Linked DNA regions of Homo sapiens. The protein of the gene in region 3 purifies or fractionates together with the protein of the main gene of each other region. This does not show direct contact. Each region holds a gene or a part of one and is shown on either strand. Other genes may lie near its edges.

Evidence for each region.
Region 1: the proteins of C22orf42 (region 3) and GNPTAB purify together in Homo sapiens (affinity purification with mass spectrometry; one large-scale study listed by BioGRID and IntAct). This does not show direct contact.
Region 2: the proteins of C22orf42 (region 3) and SEPTIN14 purify together in Homo sapiens (affinity purification with mass spectrometry; one large-scale study listed by BioGRID and IntAct). This does not show direct contact.
Region 4: the proteins of C22orf42 (region 3) and WDR44 purify together in Homo sapiens (affinity purification with mass spectrometry; one large-scale study listed by BioGRID and IntAct). This does not show direct contact.
Region 5: the proteins of C22orf42 (region 3) and CERK purify together in Homo sapiens (affinity purification with mass spectrometry; one large-scale study listed by BioGRID and IntAct). This does not show direct contact.

What each region holds. Positions count from the first base shown.
Region 1 is NC_000012.12:101,747,968-101,750,966, forward strand, and holds part of GNPTAB (N-acetylglucosamine-1-phosphotransferase subunits alpha/beta precursor), read right to left. Parts: intron 1,225-2,999; coding exon 1,134-1,224; intron 1-1,133. UniProt on the Homo sapiens protein: Catalyzes the formation of mannose 6-phosphate (M6P) markers on high mannose type oligosaccharides in the Golgi apparatus.
Region 2 is NC_000007.14:55,807,245-55,810,763, reverse strand, and holds part of SEPTIN14 (septin-14), read left to right. Parts: intron 1-3,505; coding exon 3,506-3,519. UniProt on the Homo sapiens protein: Filament-forming cytoskeletal GTPase. Involved in the migration of cortical neurons and the formation of neuron leading processes during embryonic development.
Region 3 is NC_000022.11:32,156,498-32,160,805, forward strand, and holds the start of C22orf42 (uncharacterized protein C22orf42), read right to left. Parts: upstream 2,807-4,308; 5' UTR 2,726-2,806; coding exon of another isoform or gene 2,719-2,725; coding exon 2,487-2,718; intron 1-2,486.
Region 4 is NC_000023.11:118,352,605-118,356,123, reverse strand, and holds part of WDR44 (WD repeat-containing protein 44), read right to left. Parts: intron 1-3,519. UniProt on the Homo sapiens protein: Downstream effector for Rab11 which regulates Rab11 intracellular membrane trafficking functions such as endocytic recycling, intracellular ciliogenesis and protein export.
Region 5 is NC_000022.11:46,728,241-46,731,759, reverse strand, and holds part of CERK (ceramide kinase), read left to right. Parts: intron 1-3,519. UniProt on the Homo sapiens protein: Catalyzes specifically the phosphorylation of ceramide to form ceramide 1-phosphate.

The DNA.
Region 1 (2,999 bases), on a different chromosome or scaffold from region 3:
TCCTCTTCCTTTCCATTAATGGCTGCTCCTTTGAGTCAGGGCTCCTTTCCTTCCCCATCCTAGGTCAGCACAGCAGACTCAAAGGTTTCTCACTGGACCCTGTTCTAAAAGCAGGTACAGCCTTTCTGAGATTTTTCATAAGACTTTTACCTGCCAGGAACAATGGTAACAGACATCAAGAACAAGATGTACAATCCCTGGAAAGCAGATGAAGGTTAAGTTGCTGTCCTGTTCACCTGCCCAGTCTCTGTTTCCTGAATTTCCTTCCATTTACAGCAAGAAGCCCATTCATTTATCCTGAAGCTCTCAGTACTTAGGTGCTTGTCCTTCTTGGTATAAGTCAACTTGGTGTACGTTTCATTTGAGTGACAGCTAGAAAAGCTCCACTCAATAGTCACCTTGATTGGAGGCAGAGGCCAAGTCACTTGCCACACCCAAGTCAGGTTGGTAAAGATGCCCATTCCCCTCCTTCAATCCTTTTTCTTCAGAGTATTTGATATGTGAATAGCCTAATGAGGACTCTCTTATCCCTTTCTCTTTACCTCACAAATCTCCCTCCGACTTCTGGACACTCACCTCAAGGAGGCTGCGTGTGTACATGCATGCAGAGGAAAGCCCAGGTGTAGAGGGGCTGACAAGGAGAGGAGGAAGGAGGAGAGAGGAGGGAGAACTCCTAGCGATTGAAAGAAAGATAAATGGGAGCTACTGGTGTGAGTGGGACAACACAACGGAACCGTGGGATGTCTGAAGACACTGTGCTCACTCAAGGAAGCGTGAAAGAGAGGAAGAAAATTGGAGACCCATAGAAAATTAACATTAGATAAGGATTCTAGATGGTTTTTTGGTTATAAATACTTAGAGCTACTTGGTTTTAGCCTGATATCTACAAGTTAATCTGTTGAGTTCCAGATAAAAAGAATACTGGTAATGGATTTAGAAGAGAAATGAATAAAAGACTGTTATATTTGCTGCCTGAATATTGTGAAACATATTTAACATATTCACATATGAGCTATAAGACAATAAGAGAAGTTAAAATTTTGATTGTAAATGTGTATCATTTTCTAAAACATTCAGATGCTAGTATACCAAGAAATACCATTTAATACCCACATAAAATATATAAAACTTACCTGCTCAGCAAAAAATGAGAATATAGTAAACATAATCAATGTTGCTAGTACACAATGGGTCCAAAACTTCAATTTGTCTCGATAAGCCCTCCTGTGCAGAGAGAAGAAAGCAACTATGTACTTCTGTATATGGTTTCACTACCATTAGTTAAGCATTATTTATATACTAGTTCTATAAAAACAATGTTGGGAAACACAAAAACATTGTCTTGCAATTCTAAAATGCTCACACAATATACATTTCCAACACGAGTTCAGATTTTTTATTATGTCATAGTAAATATTATACTTGAATTAGTGAAGTTATCCAGGCAGGAGAGAGGACTTCAAAAGAAAATTACTTCTGGCACTTAAACAAAACCACTCTTTCATTCATTTTTATTCACTCATACTTATTTATTCACTCAGTTTCTTGATAAATACTTCCTGCGTATATGGAGAGATGAACAAGATGAAGTCCCTGCTTTTAAGTGTTTAGAAAACTGAGGCGTTGCTGACATGCTGACTGATGACTTGCCATCACATAAGACACAGAAATATGCATTATCAAAAGCAAAGTCATGTGAAAAACTTAGAGAAATGAGGACAGTGCCACAGAGATGGTGGCATTTCCTGTAAGCCTTGAAGGGGACAGGAAGCATATGGATGAGAAAGAGAAGGAGCAGTAGAGTGGCACGGTGGCCAGCTGGGCCCTACAGGACTGAGTGGAGTGAATCCATGCGGCAGCATGGGGGGAACTAAGCCAGGTGAAGGCGAGAGGGTATGAACTGCAGCTGCTTTGCAAAACCACACCGTGGGGTCTGGACAGAACACTCTAGTGGGAAAGTGGATGAAACAGACAGGTGGGGGTATGTGTGACATAATCAGGGTAAACATGTTGGCCATTTGAAGGATGGACAAACAAGGAAGGCAGGCAGTTTAGTTTTAGTCCAGGCATGAAAGGAAGCAGTGACAATGAAAAGAAATAAGCAACAGAAGAGACATTCCTGAGGTAGAATCAACTGGACCTGGAGCCAAGAGAATACTGAGGATAAAAAGAGGCAGTACAGCCATTTCCTCATCTGTAATTTGGAAATAATGAACAATTGGTTACGAAGATTAAATAAAAATGCTTACCATAGGTTTGGAAGATATGCTAGTAACTACCAAACTCTGGCCTCTGTGCTGAGTTACAGATTCTCATTTTCCACTGTTTGGGCGTCTCTACCTCAAGTCACACATCCAAAACGGCACTCGCCCACACACAGCTCTTCCCCCTGTATTTCCCACTTCTGTTAATAGGATCATAACCAGCTCTGTCAACTAATGTCTAGTGTCAGTGCAGTGAGAGACAATGCAGAACTAAGCAGGATGAGGAGCAAGCAACCTCCAGGGCAGGGGAATGACTGCAAGAGCACCCACACCTGATTCACACCATTTGTACAGCACAGAAATCAAGGTCCTCTCAAATTACTTTTAAGCCCACTTCTTTCTTATTCAAATGGACCCTTGAGGGTAAATTTAGTCACAAATTGAATTTGGGGAGTTAACACTTAGAACCACCTAAAGATCTTTTTCCTCTGAGTTAAGGGAAAGTGAAAACGGTGAGAAGCCATTCCTTGCCATTTCTGGGAGACAAGACCCATGATTCAGTAATAACTTCTCCTTATGAAAATAAAAACATAAAGATAGCAGCAATATTCATCCTAATTGTCTCATTTGCCCAACTCCAAGATACCGAGGAGTTCTAGTGCCAGGGTCTGCCAATTTCCCTTTTAAAGTGTCTCCCAGTTCGTCTATTGCTTTTTCTTTATTGCCTAGGCTGTATCCTTGGTTCACACCTGACTGACTGTTTCTAGGACTAGTGAAATGCTTATATACTTGTCT
Region 2 (3,519 bases), on a different chromosome or scaffold from region 3:
ACTCACACCTGTAATCCCAGCACTTTGGGAGGCTGAGGCGGGTGATCACCTGAGGTCAGGAGTTTCAGACCAGCCTGACCAACATGGTGAAACCCTGTCTCTACTAAAAATACAAAAATTAGCTGGGCATGTTGGTGGGTGCCAGTAATCCCAGCTACTCGGGAGGGAGGCTGAGGCAGGAGAATTGCTTAAACCCGGGAGGCAGAGGTTGCAGTGAGCCAAGATCGTGCCATTGAACTCCAGCCTGGGTGACAGAGCAAGACTCTGCCTCAAAAAAAAAAAAAAAAAGAACTTCAAAAACACCAGCAACAAAACCAAAAGAAACAATTTAATAGCATAAAGATACAACCTAGAGATTGGAAAAAATATTTGCAACTTATACATCTGATAAGGGGCAAATGTCCAAAATATATAATATTTTTGATATTACTCTAACAACTCAATAGCAAGAAAACAAATAACACAAGGAAAAATGGGCAAAGGATCTGAACAGGCATTTCTCAAAAGAAGAAATACAAATGGCAAAAGAAATATGAAAAAAATAGCATCTCTAAAACATCAGGAAAATGCGAATTAAACACATGATGAAGTATCACTTCATGTCTTTTAGAATGACTATTATCAAAAAGACAGGCCGGGCGCAGTGGCTCACACCTGTAATCCCAGCACTTTGGGAGGCTGAGGCAGGTGGATCACGAGGTCAGGAGATGGAGACCATCCTGGCTAACGCGGTGAAACCCTGTCTCTACTAAAAATACACAAAATCAGCCTGGCGTAGTGACGGGCGCCTGTAGTCCCAGCTACTTGGGAGGCTGGGGCAGGAGAATGGCGTGAACCCAGGAGGCAGAGCTTGCAGTGAGCCGAGATTGCGCCACTGCACTCCAGCCTGGGCAACAGAGTGAGACTCTGTCTCAAAAAAAAAAAAAAAAAGACAAGCCATTACAAGTGCTGGCAAGCATATGGAGAAGAGAGAATTCTTTTTTTTTTTTTTTTAATTTTTATTTTAGGTTCAGGGGTACATGTGCAAATTTGTTATATAGATAAATTGCATGTCATGGGGGTTTGGTGTAAAAGATTATTTCATCACAGAGATAATTAGCATAGTACTGGCTGGAGCAGTGGCTTGAGTCTGTAATCCCAGCACTTTGGCAGGCTGAGGCACGTGGATCACCTGAGTTCAGGAGTTCAAGACTAGCCTGACCAACATGGCAAAACCCCGTCTCTACTAAAAAATACAAAAATTAGCCAGGTGTGGTGGCGCGCTCCTGTAATCCCAGCTACTTAAGAGGCTGAAGCAGGAGAATCACTTGAACCCAGGAAGTGCAGGTTGCAGTGAGCCGAGATCGTGCCATTGCACTCCAGCCTCAGCAACAGAGCGAGATTCCATCTCAAAAAAAAAAAATTGCTCACTTTAGCAGCACATATACTAACCAAAAAAAAAAAAAAAAAAAAAAGTAAGCATAGTAGCTTTTCTGTCCTCACTCTCCTCCCACCCTCCACCCTCAAGGAGGCCCCAGTGTCTGTTGTTCTCCCCTTTGTGTCTATGTGTTCTCAATATTTATCTCCTACTTATAAATGAGAGTATGTGGTATTTGGTTTTCTGTTCCTGCATTACATCACTTAGGATAATGGCTTCAGCTCCATTCATGTTGCTGCAAAGGACACGATCTTGTTCTTTTTTTATGGCTGTGTAGTATTCCATAGTGTATATGTTCATTTTCTCTATCCAGTCTACCATTGATGGGCATTTAGATTGATTCTATGTCTTTGTTATTGTGAATAGTGCTGCAATGAACATACACGTGCCTGTGTCTTTATGATAGAACAATATATATTCCTTTGGATATAAACCTGGTAATGGGATTACTGGGTCAAATGGTAGTTCTGTTTTAACTTCTTTAAGAAATTGTCAGGCCGAGCGTGGTGGCTCATGCCTGTAATCCCAGCACTTTGGGAGGCTGAGGAGAGTGGATCACCTGAGGTCAGGAGTTCGAAACCATCTTGGTCAACATGGTGAAACTCCATCTTTACTAAAAATACAAAAATTAGCTGGGCCTGGTGGTGGACTTCTGTAATCCCAGCTACTTGAGAGGCTGAGGTTGGAGAATCACTTGAACCCAGGAGGCGGAGGTTGCAGTGAGCTGAGGTCGCACTGCTGCACTCCAGCCTGGGTGACAAAAGCGAAACTCTGTCTCAAAAAAAGAAAAAAAGAAATTATCAAACTACTTTTCACAATGGCTGAACTAATTTATATTCCCACCAGCAGTGTATATATATTTCTAAGAAAAAAGGGAATTCTTAAACATCATTGGTGGGAATTTAAGTTGGTACAGCCATTTTGGGAAATAATATGAAGGTTCCTCAAAAACTAAAAATAGTATTACTGTATGATCCAGCAGTACCACTACTGGGTATGTACCCTAGTGGAATGAAATTGATCTGTCAAAAGACATGTGCACTCACATTTTTATTTCAGTCTTTTAAAATATGTTAAGACTTATTTTGTGGCCTAACATATGATCTATCCTGAAGAATGTCTTGTGTTTGTTTGAGAAAAATGGGTATTACTTTGCTGTTGGATGAAATATTCCACATATGTCCATTAGGTCTATTTGGTCTAAAGTGTAGTTTAAATCTGATATTTTCTTACTGATATTCTGTCTGGATAATCTATCCATTGCTGAAAGTAGGGTATCTAAGTCCCTTACTATTATTGTAATACAGTCTATCTCCCCCTCAGGTCTGCTAATATTTGCCTTATATATTTAGAAGTTGTGATATTGGGTGCATATATATTTACAATTGTTATTTTTTTAATGAACTGACCTCTTCATCATGATATGATGACCTTCTTTATATCATTTTACAGTTTTTGACTTAAAGTCTATCTTCTGTGATAGGAGTATAGCTTTCCGTGCCTTCTCTTTTAGTTTCTAATTGCATGAAATATCTTTCCGTGTCTTCACTGTCAGTCTGTATGTATCATTAAAACAGCTATGTGAATTTGTTGATTGATTTTGAATATTGACTAACGGTGTCTCCTAAATATGATATATAAATGGAAATATGTAACTAAAGTATTTTCAATTGTAAGGCCTTTTTGCTAGCAGAATTTACTCTGATAAAATTATTTACACTAGTGATGTTATATTACATATTCTGTTAGCACTCCAAAATACCCAGAGGTAGTTTATAACATACTACACAATTGTTAATAAAAACCTATGGCATATATGCACATAAAATATTATTTCACTATTTCCTGCTTATTCTTCAGGTAATAAGTTTAAAGCAAATTTGCTAACCTATAAATAATCTCTGCCTATGGTTGGTATGTATAGTACAACCACACTTACATGCTTAAAAGAATTATAGCTATTAATCAAATTGTTCAGTTGTGTGTTATTTTAAATGTGTTTTTTATTCATGTATTCATTCATGAACACTTACTGATTGTCAGGGATTGATACTGAATGTTGTTGATTCATTATTATTTTTTTACTAGTGGAAAATGAAAAT
Region 3 (4,308 bases):
TACCCACTGAAGTTAAGGAGAAAACAGTCACAGGTCAGCATCAAGAATTCCCCAGCGTTGTTTTTTTGTTTGTTTTAATAATCACACATTATTCCCCCTGCTTTCTTTCATGTATGTTACCGCATGTTCTCCCTTTTTGCTTTTCTGTGTAACCTATCTTGGGAATCACTCCATAGCAGTAAAATGACATCTTACCCTTGTTTACAGCTCCATAGTTCTCCTTTAGGTGGAAGTACCAGTTAATTTTACTAGTCCCTTACTAGACATTTCAGTTATTTCCAATATTGAGCTATTGAAAATAATGCAACAAGGACTTTGTGCATAGGTTGTTTCATATTTATGGAGTATACCCTCGAGATAAAATGCCTCAAAGTAGGATTTCTGGCTTAAATGCATTTGCAATTGTGACAAATTCCCCTTCGTGGAGTCGAGCCATTTTGCATTTCCACCAGCAATATATGCATGCAACTTTCCTTACAGCCAAACCAAAGAATGTATTGCCACGTTTTTGGAATTCCACTCAGTAGGAGAGACACTGCAGTATAGTTGTCATTTGCCTTTCTCTTATGTGTGAAGATGTGTTTAAGGATCGTTTGCATTTCTTTTTCTGTGACTTCTCTATTTATCACTTTATTACCTACTTTTAGGATCACTTGACTCTAGAGATTCTCAAGTCAGCCTATTTCAGGTCATGATCGTCTGTCTGTTCACTGTTGACTCTCACCTGCACTTCGCCACCAGCCTCCTAGCTGGTCTCCCTGCTTCCACCCTTGCCTGCATTACAGGACATTCTCACACAGCCGCTGGTCAGTCTTCTTCTTGGAGGATTAACAGTAATCCCCAGGCTGTAATCCTCCAGTGGTTTCCCATCTCAACTAAAGTCCATATTCTTTGTCAATGCTCACTACGTGTACAAGGCCTTAGCCCATCATATTCATTTCACTCTGCTGCAGCCACCTTTGTGTCTTTCTGTCCTTTTCCCAAAACAAGTTTGTTCCCATTTCAGGAATTCCAAAGAAGAAATTCCTCTCTGGAAGCCCTCTCCCATCATCCTCACAAGGCTCCGCCTCACTTTTCAATTTATTTTAAAAAACAAATAAGATGGGATCTCTATGTCTATGAAGGTGGGGACCTTCCGTCTTATTTCAAAAAGAAAGGGACATAACAAGAACCAAGAGGCAAAAAACAGTCGTGAGAGTGTAGTCAGAGCTCCTCCTTCCACTACCAGCTACTGAAGGCTGCTGGCCCTGCCCAATGGCTAGTACCCACAAAGCCTCCTATGTCACCTGGTTACCAGGAAACAACCAAGTCAGGCTAGTGGCTCACAATGGCCGACCCCACAGACCCACCCAATGGCTCACACCTCCCTGCTGCTGCCCACCTTGTGGCCACCCTGTCCCTCTGTGGTGACTGCACTATTCGTCCTGGGCTGCCTGAGCTTTCCAGTCCTGAGAAAAGTGCAGGGGGGCGGGGGTTGTTATTGGAAGTCACCCTGGGCAATGAAATCAATAGAAAACCCTGGTTACTAAAGTCAGTTCCATTAGCATCTCTGTTTTTCTGAGTCTGGCAGCTTTCGTTTGCTCACCAAATGTAGTTATACACAAATTTCGGACTGCTTTGTAAGTAAATGCTTCTCTCCTGTCTTACAAGTGTTAGTTTTTGTCTTCAACTTGACCACAGCAACTCCTAGAGCCCTGGTCCCACTCTCGATAAAGCGTGATGACTGCGACTTGAATGAAACCCTAGGACACATCACACTTTCCCTTCCTTGTCTACAATATAGGGACTACACTGTAGTAGGGCTGAAGAGACACTCATGTCAAATTGGGAATTTTAAAGTAATCAGAGCTCCATGACTAAACTCTTTGGGTAAAACCAACACAAAAGCAATTTCTTTACAGCTCTGGCACTAACATTTCATACCTTTTGCAGTCATTTGAAGCATGTCCCCCAATTTTTTTTCCTTCTTTCTTCAAATTACAATTGGAAGAAGTAAAGCAGCTTCTGTCAATGTGACTTAAAACCATCTATTAAGAATACCATATAATCTCTTCCATGGCAAACTCTATTTTGAATTTAAGAAGTCTCCACATATTTGAGTCTAAATTATCCCAATTATTAGCTACCTTAAGGAATGGGAGAAAAGAAACAATTGGGCCCTTAACTGGCTCCTTCACTTAGGTACCAGACCAGCTGGATGGGTAAGGATAGAGAATGGGATGGGGACTCCAAAACTGGAGTATTTGAAATTTTACTGAGAAAAGGGCCGGGACTAGACCAAAAAGTCCTCAACAAAGAAGGCTCAACAACAAAGACAAGAGGCAGAACCAGCCTTTGTCCCCCATGCCTAGCCCTGGGAAAGCCGGCTATGGGCAGGAGGGAGCTGGAAGCTGAGGATGTCTCTGAGGGTGAGGGACTGCAAAGGGGTGGGGGCGGTGGTGGCCAGAGAGATGCCAGAGAGCAAATGGCACCCATGGCTTCTTTACCTTTGGACATCTTCAGCATCTTCGGCGTCTTCGGGAGGCTGAGGTACTGCATGAGTTGGGCCTTCTTAGCTTTCAAATCCAATTTGGCAGGCTTTGCAGTGGTGGATGCTGGTGCTGTGGCTGCCACAGTCTCAGGAATCTCACACTCATGGCAGGGTCCCACATCTGGCCTGCAGCAGTCACAGTTGAGGCCCCCGCTGGGGCCCAGGCAGCAAGTCAGTTTGCTCCCCATTGGGCACCTAAACACACAAAAAAGTCCAAGAGGCACAAGGACAGAATGTAGTCGGAGCTCCTCCTCCTTCTACGGCCAGCTACCGACTGAAGGCTGCTGGCCCTGGCCGTTGCCTAGTAACCACAAAACCTCCTATGTCACCTGGTTGCCAGGAAACAACCAAGTCAGGCTAGTGGCTCACAATGGCCGACCCCACAGACCCACCAAATGCCTCACAATGCCCATCCCTGCTGCTGCCCACCTTGTGGCCACCCTGTCCCTCTGTGGTGACTGCATTATTCATCCTGGGCTGCCTGAGCTTTCCAGTCCTGAGAAAAGTGCAGGGGTTGGAGGTTGTTATTGGAAGTCACCCTGGGCAATGAACTCAATAGAAAACCCTGGTTACTAAAGTCAGTTCCATTAGCATCTCTGTTTTTCTGAGTCTGGCAGCTTTCGTTTGCTCACCAAATGTAGTTATACACAAATTTCGGACTGCTTTGTAAGTAAATGCTTCTCTCCTGTCTTACAAGTGTTACTTTTTGTCTTCAACTTGACCACAGCAACTCCTAGAGCCCTGGTCCCACTCTCGATAAAGCGTGATGACTGCGACTTGAATGAAACCCTAGGACACATCACACTTTCCCTTCATTGTCTATAAAATAGGGACTGAACTCATCCTTCCCAGTTCTGAAATGCTAGGACCTACCAACTCTCTTTTCTCCCTCTGTTTCTTTCTTCCATGGCAGGGATATTCAGATATTTCTTTTACTAACAATGCATAAAGCACGTTTTTCTTACACAAAATTGAAAACCATATAGTGGGATACCACTGTCCTCATTTGATGAAGATGAACAGTAAATATCTGGCAAGCCTGACAGTATTCCAACAGTGGTATACTAATTTAACCCCCAGAAACCATTCCATTTTACGGATTTTGCAGAATCAATCTAGATGGAGAAGTTAAGTAGCTTCCCCAAGTTTCCATGACGGCTCAAGATGGGGCCAGAATTTAATCCTGAGTAATCTTGATCCCCACAAGCCGATCATGATTATCAGAAAGTAAAGGTAGACGTCATGCTTGGAGGGGAAGTGACCTTGTAGATTAGTATTTTTTTTAAAGAATAACAGTTTTTTGATGTGAATTTTAAAATGCCTCCCCTTCATTCAACATTAAGTCTAAGTGCCAATACTGCATGTGTGAAACAGTCCCAACCCTCAGTGAGTTCAGGCAGATGAGCAAACAAAGGCTTAGAGGGTTCAATTATCTGAGGCTACACTGCTGGACAGTGAATCAACCTGGAATGAAAATGCAGATCTATCTGACCCAAAATTAGATGCTGGGGTAGAGTTTGAATTTTATTCTGGAAACGAGAGTCACTGAACCACACAGGGGTGAGGAGTCTCTATCCGATGTGCTTGCAGTGACGTCACTCTGCGCAGTGGAGAGGGCTTTATGAAAGCAGTGGGGCTGATTAAGATACTCTATGTTCATCTGGAGAACAGTAAGGCTAAAAAGGCAGCAGCAGTGACTGAAGTGGAAGGAAAAGTTTTGTGATCATTTGGGAGATAGAACAGGAAGTGCTTGGTGATTAGACGTGGAAGAAGAGGGG
Region 4 (3,519 bases), on a different chromosome or scaffold from region 3:
CAAATGCCCACCGTTAGTTAGCATTATGGTGTTATGGTGTTATCGTTCTTTGCATGTAACATGTAGCACTATAATATTTCTTTCTTACTGTGAACACATTCATTCCTGAAAAAAAAGTTGGTAACAAGGAACTGATAGGAATGCAGGATAACTGGCAACACCACCCAAGGTTTTACTGTTAACATTTAATATTTACTGGGTATAGGATGTCCTCAAGTTATGAAGATCCTATACATCCAAAGCACTCTCTTTGCCTCAGCTCCCTTACCTACCTCCTCTTATAGGAACTGGTACCTGTGTGTGTTTAAGGGTGACTGGAGATTGGAGAGAACCAGGAAGTTCAAAATCAGAACCAATTGTGAAGCGCAGTAGATACCACAGAGCATGCTTACTCACCACCCGCCTCCCCAACTAAACCTTGTGTGCACTGCTAGACATAACTGTGGACTATGCTGGGAAATAAGGCAAAGGTTAAAAGTCAACAGCTAAGGGCTATGATCTGGGACATAATAGGCACAGTAAGGTGCACTTAAAGGAAAAAGGACTGATCTCAATCATTAACCTTAACCCTTAAGCCAAGCTAATAAAGATAAAATACCCATTGCAAAATACAGACAAATCTACTTGCTTTCACTCACAAAGCTACTAGTTTTATCAAGCTACTTGTTCATTCTGCTCACCCATCTTTCACTAATCCAATGACTAAGCACCACCTGTAACACTAAAGTCTTTACCAACTTGTCCACCATATCCAATGCAACCAATTTTTCCCTTACTCCTTCCAAAAGTTCCCACCCTTTATATTTCTTCCATCACTGACCCTTCTCAGTTTTAAGGGACAAGAAGTAGTTATACTAGGAAATCTCTGTACTAATGACATTGACTATGCTAGGAAAGAAAAAGCTGGCAGTGAAAGGGGTGGAGTTGGGGCTGAGTGAAATGTTCAATCCACCTGCCATTTTAGTTTGGCATGGATAGGTAATATATTTTAAAAGACAGATTTAAAAAAAAAATTCAATTGTTAACAGTACTGCTAATAACCAGAAAGATGATTCCCTTAGTCTTCCAATTTCAATAAATACTTTCAGGCACAGAATTAAAAGAGGACTATGGATATTAAGTTCATCCACAGCTATTCTTACCAGTTCAAGAACAATGTCAGAAAGAATACTCCCACCTCTTCTCTTGAGCTTGCTTAGTAATCAGGATGCTTGCTCCTGGGACAGTGAGTTTGCATACAGCACTACATACTATTTATAGGTTCTCTAGAAAGTTTGATCTGTGGTTCATAAGAATGCCCATGGTTCAATGAGTTTTGTACTGGAATAGTCTATTACAATTAGTAGTGGCCAAGTAGGTTTTATACAGATATAGATAGCTTGTTACAGGTATGGCTTGTTCTGTATAGGATACCTATTAGAAAATACCATTCAGTGTATACCTATGTAACAAAACTGCATGTTCTGCACATGTACCCCAGAACTTAAAGTATAATAAAAAAAAATACCATTCAAGTTTTCCCTCAGAAGTTTCAAAAAATCTTATATTTCATCCTCAGATTTTTTAAAAACCTGACTCCCCCTTTGAAAAATTTTAAAGATCAGGACTCTGTGGAGAAAGTGAAACCAGTCTTAAGTCTATTTGTACAATTAAAGATTTCCTTGAAGCATTATCATAATTTAACTATAGTTTTTTTTTTTTTTTAAGAGACAGAGTCTGGCTCCATCGCCCAGGCCAGAGTACAGTGGCGTGACCATAGCTCACTGCACCCTCGACCTCCTGGGCCCAAGCAATCCTCCTGCCCCAATCTCCCAAATAGCTAGAACTATAGGCATGCACCATCATGTCCAACTAATTTTTAAAAACTTTTTGTAGAGATGAGGTCTTGCTACATTGCCCAGGCTGGTCTCAAACTCCTGGCTTCAAGTGATCCCTCCACCTCAGCCTCTCATGGCACTGGGATTACAGGCATGAGCTTCTGTACCTGGCCAATCCTTGTTTTGACCAAAACAGGTAAACATATTTATAATTTAAAACTATTTTAGTTACATGAATTCTGAGATTTTTAAGAGTTAAAAAAGTATGTCAAATAAATATAAAAAAAAAGACCCATACAACTATTCAGTCTTTACTGTTCTCTTCCTGTTTATTCAAGGGCTACAAAAGATAACACTTCCTATTAGTTTTCTAAACAGTTTTCTCAAATTAAAATGAATTAATCTAAAGGCCAAACATTCTTTCTACAACCTATAGAAATCATTTTTGTTAAAAGCTGGATTATTTGGTAGCTGCTGATGATCAAGATGCTTTTAAGTCATTTTAGCTAGTTTGTGATGATACTGAGTCTAAAATCACATTTGCAAATATATTTCCTAAATGGTCACCCTCGATCTGGAAATTGATTCTACTTGTTATTATAAAGGGATGGCTATTGGATGCAGTGATGCAATGCATTCAATCTTCAGGGCAATGACTAACACTGGATTGAGAAAATTAGTATGAGGAAATTGCTGCCTAAACATGTTTTTGTTAAATTATATATGTTTAAAATGTTTAAAAAGGTTTGGAGACAAAAAGGTTTTGTGGACTTAAAAAACAACTGACTCTGATGGAATGCCAAACTGTGAACTGCCAGACAGTTGCAGCTGGTAATAGAACTCTAAGACCTGAAGCGCTCTGGCAGAACCTGATTATATGGTAATCCTAGTATCTGAGAGAAGGCAAAAGAGCTAGAAGAATAACTGATAGACTGGTTGCTATAGTAACCAAGATAAATTTGTATACTGACTGAGGAAAAACATCAGGGTTGCCATCAGGTATGAGGCCCACATTATGTCGTAGGTGCTTTTTCCTCGGTTTTGAATCATGAGATGACAGACTAACACAAACACTGCTGAGTTTGAAATAAGGGAATAGAAAGAGTTTCACTCTGAAGAGTAAGGAAAGCACCCTATTAAAGGTTTAGCTGGTTAGCTGAATAATATCCAACAGTGAGAGGGGAACAGTCCTTGTGAAAGTTTGTAGATATTAGCCTAACTATGGATAGAAATGAGAAACATAGGTTATTTATCAATTCAAGCTAAATATCAGTAGGACATCATAAAGTACCTACAATTTTTGTTACTTTAACTTTGATTTGAGGTATTTCTTATAGGTTATTAATCTCTTAGAGAAGGGGTTATTTAATTCATGCTGTGAACATGTGTATCAAAATGATGGGATTTGTCTTATCTCAGTTATCCATGCCCCAGGAAGCAGCACTGTAACTTGGTCTCTATACCTACTGCTGGGGCTACCTTTACCTCTTCCACCTCCATCACCACAACCTGCATGATCTCTTTATACTCCCTTCCTCCACCTCCACTACTACCCCAGGAAGTAACTAACAAAATTGCAGAGTATGAGGAGGAAACAAGCAGCCTCTTAAAGGTGCTTGCCTGGCAAATTCACCTGATTCTGTCAAAGTCTTAACAATGAACTTAAGAGTACAAACACATGGAGTGTTGGGTAATGTAAAGG
Region 5 (3,519 bases), about 15 Mb from region 3:
CTCCCCCGATCTGGCCCTGCCCCCACCTGCTCCCGGGGCACACGTGCTCACCAGCCCAGCCGTCATTATCTCCCGCATGCCCTGTGCCTCCCCAGGTGCCCTCTGCCCTCCCTGCCTGACATGTTTTCCTCTATCCTCAGCCTCACCAAGGCCCAGCCCTCCTTCCCAGACTCACCTAGCACTGGTTATTTTGCAGTATGTTCCAAGACTGGGCAGCGTTTACACCTTCTGTTTAGCTGGTTTCTCTGGCACTGCTCCAGCAGGGAACGGCGCTGGTACTGCCAGGTGGGGGTGGAAGCCCAGGTTCCCCTCAGCCTTGTTGGCAGCGGAGTCAGGGGCTGCTTGTCATTGCCGGGTGGGTGGGGGGTACAGCTCCCGCCAGGCCTCTGCTAAGGCCACCTTGGCGGGGGGTGGAGGTGCTTCCTTGCCGCTCCCCACATGCACTCCCCTAACAGCACGTGGGTGGAGTGTGGGCACCTTGCAGCTCAGTGGCAGTGAAAGCCCTGTCTCCCCACCAGGCCTCCTCTTACTCCACTCCAGCAAGGAGGAAGGGGCACCTCGCCAGTGCAGGGTGGGGGCCCGGGCTGGGCTGCCCCTTTGTCTCCACCAATGCCTAGTGGGCATGAGGCTTTTTACCAGCTGGCGCTGATGGGGGTTCCAGCTTCCTGCGTGGCCTCCCCTGTACAGCCCTGGCAGAGGTTGTGGGGTGCCTGCTCACAGCCTCTCAAGGGTGGAAGTCTAAGCTGCTAGTTGGCCACTTGGGCTTGGTTGGAGGGCTGGGCCCGTTTTTTTCTGGGGTAGGTTGTTATTGTCTCAAAGTTTTCTGTCTTGCAAAGCTGCCCCTTCCCTGGCTAGACTGAGTTGGCTTTCACTGGGGCTCTGCGTTTGTACCTGTTGGCATTTCCAGGTTTCAGGCTGCTCCAGTTCCAAATCCAAGATAGACGAGGCAAAGGAAACCCCCAGGGGGATGCCGTGTGTCTTTCTCAGATCCCAGGCCCTGAACAGCTGCCTTTTCTCTGCCTGTCAGAGTCTTCTTATATTTGTTTCATGTGTGACGTCCAGGGCTTCACTTAATAGGAGGAGTAGGAAAAGCACAGCTAATCCATCCTCCCAGAAGCAGAAGGTGCTTGTGCATTAAAACAATTTCTTTCTCTCTGCTCTTTAGAATAGATTCTTTCTGCTGACCTATTTTCAACTTCACTATTCCTCTATCTAATTCATTCTGCTGCTAAGCCTATCTGGTGATTTTTAAATTTCAGATACTGTACTTTCCAGTTTTAAATTTTTCCTTTTGGTTCCAATAGTTTCCATTTCTTTCCTGAAAACTTCTTTTTTTTTTGAGATAGACTGTCACTCTGTTACCCAGACTGGAGTGTAATGGTGTGATCTCGACTCACTGCAAACTCCACCTCCTGGGTTCAAGCAGTTCTCGTGCCTCAGCCTTCTGAGTAGCTGGGATTACAGGTGCCTGCCACCATGCCTGGCTATTTTTTTTTTTTTTTTTAGTAGAGACAGGGATTTGCCATGTTACCCAGGCTGGTCTTGAACTCCTGAGCTCAGGCAATCTGCCCGCCTTGGCCTCCCAAAGTGCTAGGATTACAGGCGTGAGCCACCACTCCCAGCCTCTTTCCTGAAAACTTCAAGTATGTTCAACTGTGTCTCAGTGAGCATGGTTATAACAGCTGCTTTGTTTTTTGTTTGTTTGTTTGTTTGTTTGTTTTGAGATGGAGTCTCGATCTGTCACCCAGGCTGGAGTGCAGTGGTGCGATCTTGGCTCACTGCAAGCTCCGCCTCCCAGGTTCACGCCATTCTCCTGCCTCAGCCTCCTGAGTAGCTGGGACTACAGGCGCCTGCCACCACGCCTGGCTAATTTTTTGTATTTTTAGTAGGGACAGGGTTTCACCGTGTTAGCCAGGATGGTCTCGATCTCCTGCCCTCGTGATTCACCTGCCTCGGCCTCCCAAAATGCTGGGATTACAGGCATGAGCCACCGCGCCTGGCCAAAGACTACTTTGAAGTCTTTGTCTGATAACATCAACATCTGGGTCATCTCAGGTTTGACGTCTTTTGATTATTCCCTTGAGAACGTTAACATTTCCTGGTTCTTGGTGTGCTGATTTATTGTGGGTTGTTTCCTGGATATTTGGTACATTATTTTGTAAGGCCAAGTCCTGTTAATGTTTTTTGGAGGCTGGGTGTTGTGCATGCCTGTAGTCCCAGCTACTCAGGAGGCTGGGGCAGGAGGAGCATTTGACACCAGGAATTCGAGGTTACGGTGTTCCATGATTGTACCACTGTACTCCATCCTGAGTGACAGAGCAAGACCCTGTCTCTTAAAAAAAATTAATAAAAAATAAAGTCATTTGGACAATTTTTCTATTTAATTAAATTAATTAATTTATTTATTTACAGTCTCACTGTTTCCCAGGCTGGAGTGCAGTGGCTCAGTTTTGGCTCACTGCAGCCTCTTGAGCACAAGCCGTCCTCCTACCTCAGCCTCTCAAGTAGCTGGAACTACAGGCATGTACCATCATTCTCCCTAATTTTTAAAATTTATTTTGTAGAGACAGGGCCTCACTATGTTGTCCAGGTTGGTCTCAATCTTCTGGCCTCAAGCAGTCCTCCCGCTTCAGCCTCCCAAAGTGCTGGAATTACAGGCATGAGACACCAGACCCAGCCAATTTTTCTTTTTCAAAAGCAGGTGCTCAGCCTGGCTGGGTACAGATGGCAGGTCTGTCTCATGTGGCGAGGGAGGTGGGCCCTGGCTGTCCAGCCTCCGAGGCCCTGGCTGCCCTGTTTTGGCCCCTCAGGAGTGAGGCTGGACTCATCTGGTCATTCTCAGAGCCAAGTATTCCTGCTCCAGCCCCCTCTCCTCTGAGCACCCCTCTGCCCTCAGCACACCCTGGCTTCTCTGGGACAGGGGCCTGCACCCACCCTGCTGCCCCATAGCTCAGACGTCCCCGAGGCCAGAGCTGGAGATAAACCCAGCTCCCAGCTGCTGACTCTGCACGCTGGCCTCTCCAGCCAGCGGGCCTGCTGCTGTGGATCTCTGGTGTCCCCGGTTCACTGCCTGTTTCTTGTATCTTGTCCAGAGCTATCAGTCATAGCGGGTGGGAGAGACAGGCGGTCGGGCTTGGTTCATTCTGGCCAGAACTAGATGTCTGAATGCTGCTTTCCATTTAGGCCAGCGTGTACTGTGCCCTGCAGTGCTGCGGGCTTCACACCCAATGGGATCCTCATAGCCCTCTGAGACGCCCCTTGTTATCTTCTCAGAGGTGGAGATGTGGGACTTAGAGCTGAGCTCACAGGTTGGGGAGTGGGGACTCAGAGCGAGGCTGCTCCAGAATCTGGGGTGAGCTCCCTCTTCAAAGGCAGGGACTCTGGGATTTGTTTAAGTAGCCCCCGTGGCCTTTCATAGCAGGGTGCACGGGGGGAAGAGCGGGGTTCCTGGAGCAAAATCAGTCCAGTTCCCATGACAAAGTTCCCTGAGGCACCGTACGGTCCCTGGAGCCCTTGGAC